Regions from separate parts of the Homo sapiens genome. Here region 2 is linked to region 1. The links come from fine-mapping of genetic effects on gene expression. A gene starts in region 1. The other region holds a variant in brackets. All regions are shown on one strand. Distances are from middle to middle. Region 1 holds the start of UBIAD1 (UbiA prenyltransferase domain containing 1). Region 2 has its middle 27 kb from the start of UBIAD1.

Evidence for each region.
Region 2: its variant is fine-mapped to the expression of UBIAD1 in whole blood (TOPMed, PIP above 0.99).

What each region holds. Positions count from the first base shown.
Region 1 is chr1:11,268,263-11,276,596 of GRCh38, forward strand. It overlaps UBIAD1 (UbiA prenyltransferase domain containing 1), which reads left to right and starts at 4,936. Exons shown (of 2, transcript NM_013319.3): 1 at 4,936-5,798. The coding sequence starts at 5,270. RefSeq lists silencers at 4,515-4,784, 4,845-4,894 and enhancers at 4,895-5,064, 5,155-5,204.
Region 2 is chr1:11,295,724-11,304,057 of GRCh38, forward strand. It overlaps a transcript of UBIAD1 not described here. Among named protein-coding and RNA genes, the nearest start is that of UBIAD1, 27 kb to the left of the region's middle. The variant C/T (reference allele first, on the strand shown) is at 3,789.

The DNA.
Region 1 (8,334 bases):
TACAGGTGTGCACCTCGGCAGAGTAGCTGGGATTATAGGCGCACCCCACTGTACCCGGCTAATTTTTTGTATTTTTAGTAAAGACAAAGTTTCACCATGTTGGCCAGGCTGGTCTTGAACTCCTGACCTCAGGTAATCTGCCTGCCTCAGCCTCGCAAAGTGCTAGGATTACAGGTGTGAGCCACTGTGTCCAGCCTAATTTTTGTATTTTTAGTAGAGACGGGGTTTCACAATGTTGGCCAGGCTGGTCTCGAACTCCTGACCTCAAGTGATCAGCCTGCCTTGGCCTCCCAAAGTGCTGGGATTACAGGTGTGAGCCACCGCACCTGGCCCCTGATTAATTTTATAAAGTTTGTTGGGACGGTTTCATTTCCATCTTGGTACACACAGAGTTTCTTGTCCTTTTGTTGTTGCTACAGCTGCATAGTGTTCTATCACATGGCTGTGCCATAGTTCATTTTCCAGTCCTCTGTGAATGGACATTTGTGTTATGTCCAAATTTGTGCTATTACAAATGCTGCAGTGAATGCCTTTGTACGTATATCATTTTCTTCCCTGACAGCTATATCAAGATAAATTCCCAGAAATGGGATTACAGGGTTAGACAGTTTTGTTGAATCTTGTCAAGTTGATCTCTATAAGGGAGGTACCAATTTTTATTCCCATCAGCCATATAGGAGATTTTTGCCACCCTGAGATATGATACAGCCCTGTTTTCTAATTAATAATCAAAGATGATTTTATAGCAACAGTAATAAGTGCGTTTGTCGGTTTCTTTTCTGTTTACAAAGAACTTTCTTTTTTATTGTATTTTTGCAAGTCTTTTTATTTTATTATTATACTTCAAGTTCTAGGGTACATGTGCACAACGTGCAGATTTGTTACATAGGTATACATGTGCCGTGTTGGTTTGCTGCACCCATCAACTTGTCATTTACATTAGGTATTTCTCCTAACGCTATCCCTCCCCCAGCCCCCCAACCCCCAACAGGCCCCGGTGTGTGATGTTCCCCTCCCCGTGTCCATGTGTTCTCATTGTTCAACTCCCACTACAAAGAACTTTCTTATGCATTACACTAAAATAATAGCTAATATTTATTGAGCACTTACAGTGTATCAGGGATTTTGGTGGACATTATAGAGTACTTGTTAAAAGCAGCTTGGAGTCAAGTCAAACTAACTGAATCTGAAATTTGGCTGCAACACTTTGTACCTATTTCCTTATGTGTAAAACTGGAAGGATTATAGTCTCTTCGTTGGTAGGCAGTATTGTGGGGGTTAAACGCTAATACCACACGTAAAGTACCTAAAAGAGGTACTTGGCCCAGCATGGTGGCTCACACCTGTAATCCCAGCACTTTGGGAGGCCAAGGCAGGTGGATCACCTGAGGTCAGGAGTTCGAGATCAGCTTGGTAAAACCCTATCTCTACTAAAAATATAAAAATTAGCTGAGCATGGTGGCAGACGCCTGTAATCCCAGTTACTCAGGAGGCTGAGGAGGAGAATCACTTGAACCTGGGAGGTGGAGGTTACAGTGAGCCGAGATCGCACCACTGCACTCCAGCCTGGGCGACAGAGCAAGACTCCGTCTCAAAAGCAAACAAAGTATATGGCTCATGTGAAAAGTCAATAAATGCTGTTTACTATTATTCCTGAGCATTTCTATGAGGCAGGTTGTATTGTTCCCACCTTATATATAAGTAAGCCAAAGAACAGAGATATTGGGACATGGAATTGGTAAGTGATAGAGCCAGGATTTTAATCTATCTGCTGATATATTGTCTGATTTGACATTGTATGACTCATGGGTTTGGCCAGCATAGAAAGCTCTGTGTTGAGTGGTGAAGTTGTAATGTTCAACAACCAGATTGGGGGTAAGTGGAAGCAGACATGTACAGAGCTAGCTTCACAGCTGTGTCATGCTCTGTTTTGCAATTGTTAATGATTTTGAACAAGAGGCCCCACTTATTTTTTTTATTTTTTAAATTAATTAATTATTTTTTTTGAGATGGAGTTTTGCTCTTATTGTCCAGGCTGGAGTGCAATGGCACGATCTCGGCTCACCGCAACCTCCACCTCCCGGGTTCAAGTGATTCTCCTGCCTCAGCCTCCTGAGTAGCTGGGATTACAGGCATGCGCCACCACTCCCGGATGATTTTGTATTTTTAGTAGAGACGGGGTTTCTCCATGTTGGTCAGGCTGGTCTTGAACTCCCAACCTCAGGTCATCTGACCACCTTGGCCTCCCAAAGTGCTGGAATTACAGGCGTGAGCCACCGTGCCTGGCCTGGCCCCACTTATTTATTGATTTTATTTTATTTTTTTGAGATAGGATCTCACTCTATTACCCAGGCTGGAGTGCAGGGGCACAATCATGACTCACTGCAGCCTCAACTTCCCAGGCTCAGGTGATTCTTCCGCCTCAGCCTCCCAAGTAGCTGGGACCACGGGTGCACACTGCCACGCCTGGCTAATTCTTTTACTTTTTCTTTTTCTTTTTTTTTTTTTTTGAGATGGAGTCTTGCTCTGTCGCCCAGGCTGGAGTGCAGTGGCACGATCTCGGCTCACTGCAAGCTCCGCCTCCGGGGTTCATGCCATTCTCTTGCCTCAGCCTCCCAAGTAGCTGGGACTACAGGTGCCTGCCACCACGCCTGGCTAATTTTTTTGTATTTTTAGTAGACATGGTGTTTCACCATGTTAGCCAGAATGGTCTTATCTCCTGACCCCATGATCTGCCCGCCTCGGCCTTCCAAAGTGCTGGGATTACAGGCGTGGGCCACTGCACCTGGCCCACACCTGGCTAATTCTTCGATTTTTACCGTGTGGTCCAGGCTGGTCTTCTCCTGGGCTCAAGCGATCCACCTGCCTTGTCCTCCCAAAGTGTTGGGATTACAGGTGTGAGCCACCACATCTGGTCTTTTTAATTTTTTAGAGCGGAGATCTCACTTTGTTGCCCAGGCTGGTCTCTAACCTGAGCTCAAGAGATCCTCCCGCCGGGTGCGGTGGCTCACACCTGTAATCCCAGTACTTTGGGAGGCTGAGGCAGGCGGATCACGAGGTCAGGAGATAGAGACCATCCTGGCTGACACGGTAAAACCTTGTCTCTACTAAAAATACAAAATAATTAGCCGGGCGTGGTGGCGGGCGCCTGTAGTCACAGCTACTCGGGAGGCTGAGGCAGGAGAATGGTGTGAACCCTGGAGGCGGAGCTTGCAGTGAGCCGAGATTGTGTCACTGCACCCCAGCCTGGGCAACAGAGCAAGACTCCGTCTCAAAAAAACCTCCTGAGTAGCTGGGACTACAGGCACACATTATCACCCCCAGCTCCACCTCTTTAGTTTGCACTGGGTACCACAAATTATGTAGTCAGTCCTGTGTGCATCTATGTTGCATGTGTATTATAATTTCACTGATGTAAATGATGTGTAGCATACAGTTTACAAATACTAAAATATACAGTACAGGACTCTATTGTAAACTCCATATAGCCAGTTCTCACAGTATGCTTTCTTTGATGTTGTGTAGCTTCCCTATGGTCCCAATTGATCAATGAGCATAGTTCAGACATGAATGTTGGTTGATATTTTATGTTAGGAGTAAGAGGAAAGTGAAACAATCAAAAGAGATATGTCAGAACTTCACTAGTTTGTCAAGGCTACAAGCGACTTATTTGTTCAACTGGATAATAATTTGCCAATGCTGAACGAATATTTCCTCAAAGTTTTGGTGCATTCACTTACACACTTTTTTTCTCTCTTTTTTTTCTTTTTTGAGACGGAGTCTCGCTCTACTGCCCAGGCTGGAGTGCAGTGGCGTGATCTTGGCTCACTGCAGCCTCTGCCTCCAGGGTTCAAGCAATTCTCCTGCCTCAGCCTCCCGAGTAGCTGTGATTACAGGAATGCACCACCACCCCCGGCTAATTTTTTTTTTTTTTTTGAGATGGAGTCTCACTCTGTTGCCCAGGCTGGAGCCCATTGGCATGATCTTGGCTCACTGCAACCTCCATCTCCCGGGTTCAAGCAATTCTCCTGCCCCAGCCTCCCGAGTAGCTGGGATTACAGGTGCCTGCCACCACGCACGGCTAATTTTTGTATTTTTAGTAGAGACAGGGTTTCGCTATGTTGGCCAGGCTGATGTCGAACTCCTGACATCAAGTGATCCGCCTGCCTCGGCCTTCCAAAGTGCTGGGATTACAGGCGTGAGCCACCGCACCCTCCAACACTTTTAAGTTTAACCAGTAATATGAACATTTTCTCCGCCACTTTCTTAAGTCTAGACGACTTAGCAGTTATTAAGCATTTGCTGATTTGCGTGGTGTAAATTCTCCCACCATGGGCAGATTTCAAGCTGCTGAAGGATGTCACTGAATGAAAAGCTGATAAGAGGTGAGCAGTAGCACATCATAGAGTATTTCCACGGTGCAGATATGATAGACGTCAGAATGTATGCACACAGCAGGCGCTCAATAAATGCTTGTAGCATGAATAAATTAATGAATCCTACTTCGTGAATGAAAGTGCGCCCGGTAAGTCCTAAAGCAACACGCCTTCGAGTTCTTATGATGCTAAGAGAGGCTGATTGCAGTTAGTCTGGAAGTAGCTGCGGGGCGCAGTGCAGGCAGGAAAAGGGCTGGATGCCGGGTCACCGCCCGGCCCCAGCTCCTGGCCCGTCCCCGCTCCCGGTCCATTCCCGCCCCGGCCCCGCCCCCTCCCGCCCCACCACCGGTCTGGCCCCGCCCCTCAGCCCCGCCCCACCCCTCACCGCCCTTCTCCCCGCCTCTGACCCCGCCCCTCCTCTGACTCGGCCCTGCCCGCCCCGCCTCTGACCAGGCCCCCGCCCCCCACCCCTCACCGCCCTTCTCCCCGCCTCTGGCTCGGCCCCGCCCCCTCCCGCCCTCCAGCCCACCCTCCGGTCCAGCCCGCGCCGCCGGCACCTGTTTCCGGGCGGGCCTCCAGAGGCCGGCGCACAAGATGGCGGCTCTGGCGGCCTAAAGAAGGCGGCCGCGGCTCAGCCGTGGGCTCTAACGCGGGGCTGGGGGCCGGAGACAGACTTCGCCCAGGTGACGGGTAGTAGGGGCGGCGCCGCTTGGCCTCGTGGGGTGTAAGACCCACTTGCTGTTGCCCCCGGACCTTGCCGCCACACCAGCCCTGTCCTGGGGCGGAACCGAAGGAAGGTCGGGCCCTGCTGCCCCGCCCCGTCCTTCCTCCTTCCCGGGCGGTCACTGTGCGTGGCTCACTTTTAGAGTTTACTTCAACCACGTGGAGCTTCCATGGCGGCCTCTCAGGTCCTGGGGGAGAAGATTAACATCCTGTCGGGAGAGACTGTCAAAGCTGGGGACAGGGACCCGCTGGGGAACGACTGTCCCGAGCAAGATAGGCTCCCCCAGCGCTCCTGGAGGCAGAAGTGTGCCTCCTACGTGTTGGCCCTGAGGCCCTGGAGCTTCAGTGCCTCACTCACACCGGTGGCCCTGGGCAGTGCCCTTGCCTACAGATCCCACGGTGTCCTGGATCCCAGGCTCTTGGTGGGTTGTGCCGTGGCTGTCCTGGCTGTGCACGGGGCCGGTAATTTGGTCAACACTTACTATGACTTTTCCAAGGGCATTGACCACAAAAAGAGTGATGACAGGACACTTGTGGACCGAATCTTGGAGCCGCAGGATGTCGTCCGGTTCGGAGTCTTCCTCTACACGTTGGGCTGCGTCTGTGCCGCTTGCCTCTACTACCTGTCCCCTCTGAAACTGGAGCACTTGGCTCTTATCTACTTTGGAGGCCTGTCTGGCTCCTTTCTCTACACAGGAGGTAAGATTTGGCCTGTCCTGTGTGCTGCAGGTCTTAGTCGCGTCCACTGGAAACCGCTGCTTTGTAAAGGAGTTATAGGGATGTCAAAGGTGGCTTTCTAATTTAAGCCGCTTTAATTGAAGTCTATAATTGTGGGTGATGTGAATTTTTTGAAACAGTGATTTGAGAAGATCCTGGTTTGACTTACGGACGTAGGGCATGACTGAAAATTTTATATGGACATTTATTTTTATTTATTTTTTATGTATTCATTTTTGAGACGGAGTCTCGCTCTGTCGCCCAGGCTGGAGTGCAGTGGTGCGATCTCGGCCCACTGCAGCCTCTGCCTCCCGTGTTCAAGCGATTCTCCTGCCTCAGCCTCCCGAGTAGCTGGGACTACAGGTGCACGCCACCACGCCTGGCTGATTTTTGTATTTTTATTAGAGACGGGGTGTCACCATGTTGGCCAGGATGGTCTCGATTTCCTGACCTCGTGATCCACCCGCCTCAGCCTCCCAAAGTTCTAAGATTACAGGCGTGAGCCACCGCGCCCTGTCAGGACATTTTTTAATTTTTTTTATTTTTTTTGAGACAGAGTCTCGCTCTGTTGCCCAGGCAAGGGTGCAGTGGCACCATCTCGGCTTACTGCAACCTCTGTCTCCCGGCTTCAAGCGATTCTTCTGCCTCAGCTCCCCGAGTAGCTGGGACTACAGGCATGTGCCACCACGCCTGGCTAATTTTTGTATTTTTAGTAGAGACAAGGTTTCACCATGTTGGCCAGGCTGGTCTTGAACTCCTGACCTCATGACCTGCCTGTCTTGCCCTCCCAAAGTGCTGGGATTACAGGCGTGAGCCACCATGCCCGGCCTATATGGACATTTTTTCTGTCTCATTTTTTTTTTTAATCACTCATACTTTATAATGCCACAGTTTCAAATATTAGAATTAAATCTGAAGAGTTCAAAATGATATAGATAATTACTTCTAGCTAGTTTGCTAGGTGACTTCTTGCAAGAGGCTGATTAAGGTAGTGATGGGCAGGTGGGTAAGCCCTATTTATTGAGCACCTATTATGTGCCAGGCACTGTTCTGTGTGAACACAGCAGTCACAGATCCCTGCCCTTGTGAAACTTACGTATTATCATGAAAAGAGACAGAAAGTAAAAATAGAAAATTATAGTTAGGGTGACCAATATCCTGGTTTGCTCAGGACTAAGGTGACAGGACTAAGTCGGATGTGCGACTTCTGGAGCTAAAACCAGAAAAGTTCCTGGTAAGTCAGGTTGAATTGATCACCCTGATTATAGTATATGAAAGATGATAAGTGCTATGGGAAAAAAAAGTAGAGCAAAGAATGGGACACAGATTACTATTTTAAGTAGTTTGATCAGGGTAGGCTTCATCAAAAAGGTAACATTTGGCTGAGTGCAGTGGCTCATGTCTGTAATCCCAGCCCTTTGGGAGGCTGAAGCGAGAGGATCGCTTGAGGCCAGGAGTTAAACACCAGCCTGGGCAACATAGACCCCTGTCTGTATAAAATATAAAATAAAAAATATTAGCTGGGCATGGTGGTGCTTGCCTGTGGTCCCAGCTACTTTGGAGGCTGAGGCGGGAGAATTGCTTGAGCCCAGGGGTCAAGGCTGCAGTGAGTCCTGATCACACCACTGCACTCCAGCCTGGGCGACAGAGTGAGACCATGCCTCAGAAAGGTAGTATTTGAGTTGAGTTACATTGAAGGAGGTAAGAGGTGAGGGAGTTGGCCAAGCAGATATCTGAGAGAGGAGCATTTCAGGAAAAGCAACAGCAAGTGCCATAGGCCTTCAGGCAGGAATGTGTCCAAAGAGCTTACAGAGCAGCAAGAAGTCCAGTGTGTGAATGAAGGAGAGAGTAAAGAGAGGTAAAGTAAGAGAAGTACGTTTGGGGAGGGTAAGGAGGCACACACACGGATTATATAGACCTTGTAGGCCACTGGTCTTGGCTCTGGAATGGAGGAGCCACTGCAGGACTTTGAGCAAGGGAGTGATGTAATATAATGTTTTAAAAGAATTGCTCTGGGTAAGGTATTGAGAATGGATCAAGGGGAGTGGGGCAAGGGTAGAGGCAGGAAGACCAAGTAGGAAGCTCTTGAATAATCCAGGCAAGCGATGTTTGGTGGCTTGTATCTAGCGGGTGGTAGTGGAAGAGGTAAGTAGCCAGATTCTAAATATGCTTTGAAGGTAGACAGGGTTTGCTGATGGATTGGATGTGAGGTAAAGAGAAACAGAGGAATTAAGCATAACTCAAAGGTTTTTTTTTTTCTTGGACACATTCCACATTTTATTTACATTTTCAGACTAACTTTGGGCTGGGTGCTGTGCCTCATGCCTGTAATCTCAGCACTTCGGGAGGCCAAGGCAAGTGGATCACTTGAGATCAGGAGTTCCAGACCAGCCTGGCCAACATGGTGAAACCTTGTCTGTACTAAAAATACAAAAATTAGCCAGGCGTGGTGGCATGTGCCTGTAGTCCTAGCTACTCGGGAGGCTGAGGCAGGAGGATTGCTTGAGCCCAGTAGGCA
Region 2 (8,334 bases), 27 kb after region 1:
TCACCATGGTCACCAATGAGGGCCTTCCAGCTGACACTTGCCTTGGCCAAAGACCTTTACTGAGAGCCTGCTCTGTCCCAGGAGGCAAGATAAACGAGGCACACCCCTGCCCTTTGAGGACACACAGTGAACTAATAGCAAAAGCTACATGCATACATTATCCTGCCACCTCAAGTGTCAACATAGACACTTGTCCCTAGAGATCCTTAAAGCCCCTCTGAAGGACAGGCCACTCACAGCCATGTGTGAGACATAGAGGCATAAAGGCTGTGGGGAAATGAGGGCAGAAGAGATGAACTTCTCCATGCCCCATTGTTCCAGACTGCGATCAATTCACTATCTATGACTAGATCTCCTCTGATGCCATCTGCAGGTGGCTGCAAGACCAGTCAATTTATTGAACAAGTATTATGTTACAGGCACTTGCTAAGCTCTGGGAGGTATCATGGTAAATGAGACCTTATCCCTGTCCTCAGGAAACTTACACTCTCCAGAGGACAGACAGACAAACAGGCACACCTTATATCACTCCTGGAGCTTGACTGGTGAAGTGGAAAGAGTTTGGGCTTTCGAGTCTGGCAGCACTGGGTGGGTAGAAGTCCAGGCTCGATCACTCACCCCCGGGATACCCTCAGACAAGCTACATAACCTCTTTGAGCTTCCGGTGCCTCCTCTGCAAAGGAGGATGATAGGATTTGCCCTGTAGGGTAATTTTGGGTTTAAATGAGGTAGTGCTCACAGAGTACTTAGCATGTGCCTGGTGAGTAGTAGGCACTTCATAAAGTGAGTTCCCCCTGTCCCCCCCTTTGTTTTGAGACAGGATCTCACTCTGTAGCCCAGGGTGGAGTGCAGTAGCACAATCATGGCTTACTGCAGCCTCAACCTCCCTGGGCTCAGGTGATCTTCCCACCTCAGCCTCCAGAGTAGCTTGGACTACAGGCTTGCACCACCATGCCCAGCTAATTTTTGTATTTTTTATAGAGACAAGATTTCACCATGTTGCCCAGGCTGGTCTCCAGCTCTTAGGCTAAAGCAATCCGCCCGCCTCAGCCTCCCAAAGTGCTGGGATTACAAGCCTGAGCCACTGCTTCCAGCCCCCTTTCCTTTCTTATGGATGACTATTTTAGAATGTTGTTTTTTGTGTAATCTTAGACTTTCCTACCAAGGCAGAGGGCCCATGGCTGAGGGTCCATGTTCTTCCCAGTACTCAGCACAGTGCCTGGTACATTCATTCATTCATTCAACAAACATGTATTGAGCACCTGATAAGTACCAGGAACTGTATTAAAACTAAACATAGAAAATGAACAAGACCAGATCTCTATGCTCCCAGAGCTTATATGATAGTAAGGGAGATAGAAAAGAAACAACTATTCATTGTGAAACTCTCTGCTGTGGTTTGAATGTTGTATCCTCCCAGATTCATGTTGAATCCTAATGTTGAATCCTATGTTGAAGCCTAATCCCCAACATGATTGTATTAGGAGGTGGCAACTTTGGGAGGTGATTAGGTCACGAGAGTAGAGTCCTCATGGGTAGAGTATTAGTGCCCTGATCAAAGAGACCCCAGGGAGCTGCCTTGCTCCTTCCTCCATGGGAGGACACAGCTGGAAGGCACTATCTATGAACCAGAAAGTGGCCTTCACCAAACCAAATCTGCCTTGGTTTTGGACTTCTCAGCCCCCAGACCTGTGAGACATTTCTGTTGTGTATAAGCCATCTAGTTTAATGGTATTTTGCTATAGTAGCCTGAATGGCACTCTGTGTATGGGGGTGGGGGTGTCCATTTGGTGATTCCGAGGGGCTCTGCCCTGGCACCAGGATAAGTTCCATGCAGAAACCAAAGGATGACCCATCTGCAGCCCTTCTGTCAGGAGAGCCAAGCCTGGCTGTGCTGAGATCAGAATCCTGGTGGGGTGACTATGAAAAAGTTGGGGTCTTGGCCTTGGGGTCAAAGATTGTCAAGGTGACTTCTCATTCGAATGCTTCACAGCCCTGGAGGCTTGACAGTTGAGAATGCGCTGAAGAAGTCCTGGATGGAGAGACAGGTGGTCTTACATGTGGCTGTGAGTGGCCTGTCCTTCAGAGAGGCTTTAGGAATCTCTAGGTACAAGGGAAAGATAACATCCCCTTGGGCTGCAGTCCAGGTTCATTCAACAAGGGAAGAAAACTGGAAAACATCTGATGTCTGTTTTACCAGAGTTGTTACTATTACTTTTACTATTATTGTTTTTTGTTTTTTTGTTTTTTTTTTGAGACGAAGTTTTGCTCTTGTTGCCCAGGCTGAAGTGCAGTGGCACGATCTCGGCTCACTGCCACCTCCATCTTCTGGGTTCAAGCGATTATCCTGCCTCAGCCTCCCGAATAGCTGGGATTACAGCATGCACCACCATGCCCAGCTAATTTTGTATTTTTAGTAGAGAAGGGTTTCACCATGTTGGTCAGGCTGGTCTCAAACTCCTGACCTCAAGTGATCCACCCACTCTGGCCTCCCAAAGTGTTGGGATTACAGGCATGAGCCATTGCTCCCCACCAGAGTTGTTATTATATTTTAAAAAATTGGGCCAGACACAGTGGCTTATGCCTGTAATCCCAGCACTTTGGGAGACCGAGGCAGGTGAATCACCTGAGGTCAAGTGTTTGAGACCAGCCTGGCCAATGTGGCAAAAACCCATCTCTACTAAAAATACAAAAATTAGCCGGGCATGGTGGCACATATTGTAATCCCAGCTACTCCGGAGGCTGAGGCAGGAGAATCACTTAAACCTGGGAGGTGGAGGTTGCAGTGAGCTGAGATTGTGCCATTGCACTCCAGCCTGGGTGACAGAATGAGACCCTGTCTCCAAAAATAAATAAATAAATAAATAAATAAATAAATAAATAAAAGTTTCCCATGTGCATGTGTGCACATATGTGTGTACACTTATGGACATTTGGGGACACCTCCTGCACCCCGCAGTGGTGCAGTTATTATCCTGGGTATTCAGTAGGTGCTGAACGTGAAGGGAACCCAATGCAGTGAGCGACACCTGGTAAAGCCATCTCAATGTCTAGACAAGCAGTCTCCATGCAGCTCCAAGGAGGATAAGGGGAAACCACAGAGGGCTGTGAGCAGAGGGTTGCTCAGAGCCCCTCCTGACGGAGGCGAGGAGGAGGTGGAGCCATTCGTTATCCTGCCAGCTTGGCACAGAGGCTGGGTGCAGGGGCTGGGTGGCTGTGCTGAGAAGAGCCATTCCATTTCCAAGAAGGAACAGGGAGGGGATGGTGAGGAGCGAAGATAACCAAGTCAGTCAAGCAGGGCAGAGCACGGTGTAATCCATGCCCTAGGCCATCACAGTGGCTGCAGCCAATCTCACTGCATGAGAGGTGGGAGAAGATGGGCTTCCCCAGGAGAGGCCCTGCCCTGGAAACCCCACTGCCTGCCCTGGGTCATCCTTGATACTCATTCCCTTGTTTCTCTCAGTGGCGGGCATGACAGCAACATGTCAAGGCCGCCTAACCACAGTCACAGTGAGAGCCACCAGACGCTGGATCCGGGCAGCAACTTGGGGTTCACTGAAGCTTTCTCCGTGCTTTTCTCACGCTGGCCTCCCTATGGCCCTGAGAGGTGCATGCTCGGCTTGTTTCATGGGCTGAGTGGTTCAGTGACTTGCTCGGGATCACAACCACCGCACAGGAGCACCACACATGGCCTGGACTGGTTCTCTTCCAACTCTAAAAGCAGCACTCATTTGGTTAACAGTCTTTTTCATTTTCAACACTTCTTTCTTTTGAAGGGGGGAGCAAAG[C/T]GTGATCGGTTGCCTTTTATAATTCTCGTTTTCAATTTCAATCTCTTTTAAAATGTTGAAAGACTCACAGCTGCCTCTTTTGTTATTGTCTTCATCTCCCACCCTCTTTCCGGCCTCTCCTCCTTGCCTTTCCTTCCCTTAACCCTTCCCATGGCTCCTCTGAGCTGCCCAGGCATGTGGCCGGCTTGTCATGCTGGTGGCCTTGGATGTTGGAGAAGAGGGGGAAGAGGTAGGATTGAGGGGCTCCATCAGAGACAGGGTCTCAGGGGTCTTCACAGTTTGATGGATTTTTTTTTTTTTTTTTGAGACAGAGTCTCTCTGTTGCCCAAGCTGGAGTGCAGTGGCACGATCTCAGCTCACTGCAACCTCTGCCTCCCAGGTTTAAGTGATTCTCCTGCCTCAGCCTCCCGAGTAGCTGGGACTACAGGTGCGTGCCACCATGCCCAGCTAATTTTTATATTTTTAGTAGAGACAGGGTTTCACCATGTTGGCCAGGCTGGTCTCAAACTCCTGGCCTCAGGTGATCCACCCATCTTGGCCTTCCAAAGTACTGGGATTATACGCATGAGCCACCATGCCCGGCCTAATTTTTGTAGAGACAGAGTCTTGCCATGTTGCCCAGCCAGGAGTCAAATAGCAGGAAGGCTCTGCTCCAAACAATGCTTGGTTTTCCATTGAAGACATCTAATAACTTTTACAATTTTTTTTTTTTTGAGACACAGTCTCCCTCTGTCACCCAGGCTGGAGTGCAGTGGTGTGATCTTGGCTCACTGCAACCTCTGCCTCCTGGGTTCAAGTGATTCTTGTGCCACAGCCTCCTGAGTAGCTGGGATTACAGGCGCCCACCACCATGCCTGGCTAATTTTTGTATTTTTAGTAAGACAGGGTTTCACCATGTTGGCAAGGCTGGTCTCGAACTCCTGACCTCAAGTGATCTACCAGCCTTGGCCTCTCAAAGTGCTGGGATTACAGGCATGAGCCACTGCGCCCGGCCAAAAAAAAATTTTTGTTTATTCAAAATTTCTGTCTTTTTTTTTGAGACAGGGTCTCACTCTGTGGCCCAGGCTGGAGTGCAGTGGCAAGATCACCGCTCACTGAGGCCTCGGCCTCCCCAGGCTCAGGTGATCCTCCCACCTCAGCCTCCCGAGTAGCTGGTACTACAGGCATGCACCACCACACCCAGCTAATTTTTGTATTTTTAGTAGACACGGGGTTTTACCATGTTGACCAGGCTGGTCTCGAACTCCTGACCTCAAGTGATCCACCTGCCTCGGCCTCCCAAAATGCTGGGGTTACAGACGTGAGTCACCATGCCTGGTGAATGGATGGTTGATTCTATTTGCTTTGTGCAGTCTGACTGATGTAAATCATCTCAGCCATGTCTGGGCATTGGAGTCAGGTTTAGGCAGGAGTGGCCTCCAGGTCACCTGCAGAAACACACACGGCCGTGGCTCACCCCCTTGCTCCCAGTCACTCTGTGTCTGAGCCAACTTAGGATCGTGTATGTGTGTTCTCACACTTGAGACTCTTTTTTTAAATTTTTTATTTATTTTTTGAGACGGAGTCTCACTCTGTCACCCAGGCTGGAGTGCAGTGAGTGGCGCGATCTTGGCTCACTGCAAGCTCCGCCTTCCGGGTTCACACCATTCTCCTGCCTCAGCCTCCCAAGTAGCTGGGACTACAGGCGCCCGCCACCATGCCCGGCTAATTTTTTTGTATTTTTAAAATAGAGACAGGGTTTCACCATGTTAGCCAGGATGGTCTCGATCTCCTGACCTCGTGTCCGCCCGCCTCGGCCTCCCAAAGTGCTGGGATTACAGGCTTGAGCCACTGCGCCCGGCCACACTTGAGACTCTTAGCAATTCCATGACTGAGGTATGATAGCTCCCATTTTATAGATGAGGAAACTGAGGCTCCTTCAGCAAGTTAAACAGCTTGCTCTCAATGTCCCCAAACAGACCCAGCAGCCCAAGGTCTCAGAGCTGATGGCAGAGCTGGGATGAGAAGCCAAGTCCTTTGACTTCTAACCCAGTGCTTTTCCCGCCATGCTCTGTGTCCCATCCTTGGTCCTAATCTTGAGACGGCAGGACTAAGATTGGAGGACTTGTGGCTTCCAGGTTCCTCCTGAAAGCCACCAGAGATTTAAAAAAAAAAAAAAAGAGTGAGAGGTTAGCCTGATCCAGCGAGAGCAGCGATGGCTCCCTGGGTGAGGATACATGCCAGCGAGTGAGGAGCTGCTGACTGGGGGGTGATCTCCCTGATAAATGATGGAGTGCCAGTTGCTTCTGCAGCTGCAGGGCTGCATCTGGGCCCCAGTGCTGATGCACGCTCCGCCTCCAGATCCGCATTGTCACCAGCTTGTTGGAAAAACAGATGTTATTGTCCTCTGTTCCTGTCCCTTTGTCCCTAATAGGCACTTAAGCGCAGGAGGGGGAAAAAGAAACGGAGACAGAATCGTGTAACTATTTCAGGCTCTTTCCAGAAGCATGCACTTCTGTGGGACTTGGGGTCTGGGATGGAATGGGTGCAGGGAAGCACCCCCTGCCCCCTGCCCCAGTGTTTCTGGGACAGCCCTGGGGAGAAGCTGCTTGTTGGTCCAAGGCAGTGGGTGCTGAGGACTAGTTCTTGGAGGAGACGCCTTCCTTCTCTCTTAGATCTGCACCTGGAGTGGGCCCTAAGCTGACATTTCAAAGAAGGAATGCTGGGGACCTCTGGTCTTCTGCCTGGACTGCCAGAGTTTGGAAGATTGGATGAGGTCAAGGGCTGATGAGATCAAGGTCTTTTGTTCCATTCTTGTTTGGGCTTCATCCATCCATCCATCCATGCATGCAGTGATTTGCTAAACACATTCTTTTTTTTTTTTTTGAGACAAGGTCTTGCTCCCAGACAGGGGTGGCAGTGGCATAGTCACAGCTCACTGCAGCCTCCAGGGCTCAAGCAATCCTCCTGCCTCAGCCTCCCGAGTAGCTGGGACCACAGGTACATGCCACCATGCCTGGCTAATTTTTTGATTTTTTGTAGGGATGGGGTCTCACTATGTTGCCCAGGCGTAAGCACATCCCTAAGGGCATAACCCTACTCCTGACAGCAGCATACTGGTTTGCAGGTGAAAACTTTTCATGGAAAGGACAATACATTCTCTTCCATCAGGTCAGCCATGGCTATGATTTAATGGGAGCTCTGAGGCTCTCCTGCACCTAAATAGCTCTGCATCAACCTGCCTCTGTGCCTCAGATTCCACCATTAGTCAGTCCTCTGAATAAAGGCCTTATATTTCTCAAAGGTCCTTGCTAAAATACGAGCACATAACTGAGGAGATTCTCATTGAGGAAAAAAAATCTGCTTGTCACCATGGAGAACAGAGGATCAGGGCCTAAAATGAGTGCTACACAAGATGGGGACATTTTGATCAGGGAAAGATGAGAAGAGGGATGTCCATTCTGTGGGCTGCTGTCCTGGGAGGGAGGACCTGAGGAGCTGTATGAGAGAATTAGGAATTTAGGGGAAGCAGTTCTTTTTTTTTTTTTTTCCAAGATGGAGTCTTGCTCTCTCGCCCGGGCTGGAGTGCAGTGGTGCGATCTCAGCTCACTGCAACCTCTGCCTCCCGGGTTCAAGCAATTCTCCTGCGTCAGCCTCCTGAGTAGCTGGGATTACAGGCGTGCACCACCACGCTTGGCTAATTTTTCTATTTTTAGTAGAGACAGTATTTCGCCATGTTGGCCAGGCTGGTCTCGAACTCTTGTCCTCAAGTGATCCGCCTGTCTTGGCCTCCTAAATTGCTGGGATTACAGGTACGAGCCAGCGCACCTGGTCTAGGGGGAACAGTTCAGAGAGGGACCTGTCTGCATGCATCATTGGTTGCCCTATTCTGCTTTGAGACCGGCTGTGTAAGTACAGACTCCTAAAGAGCTATCTCAGCCTTCCTCGTCCTTGCTGGAATCAGAGATGCTTTTTTTTATTTTTTATTTTTATTTTTATTTATTTATTTTTTTTTGAGACAGGGTCTTGCACTGTTGCCCAGGCTGGAGTGCCGTGGTGGTGCAATCATAGCTCACTGCAGTCTCGAATTCTTGGGCTCAATGGATCCTCCTGCCCCAGTCTCCTGAGTACCTGGGACTAAAGGTGTGCACGCCTCGCCTAATTTTTAAAAAATGTTTTGTAGAAATGGGGGTTTTGTTATGTTGCCCCGGCTGATCTTCAACTCCTGGGCTTAAGTGATCCTTCTGCGTTGGCCTCCCAAAGTGCTGGGATTATGGGCATGAGCCACTTCGTCCAGGTGGGATGCATTTTTATGTTCTATTGACCCTCAAAATGGGAAAGCTCAGAGATTGGGCCACCTCTGTCCCCATAGGTACCTCCCTCCACATTTCATTGGGATATGAGGGACAGAAATGGGGTGGAGGCGGAGGCCCTAGCACCCCATCCATCTCCCATGTTCCTGCTGCCTTACCACACCCTGCGCCCTGCTCTGCGGCTTCTAGATGGTAAGAGTGGACAGAGCATTTGAGGGCTCAGTCCTGCCATCCAGGATGCCGGCAATGGCTAG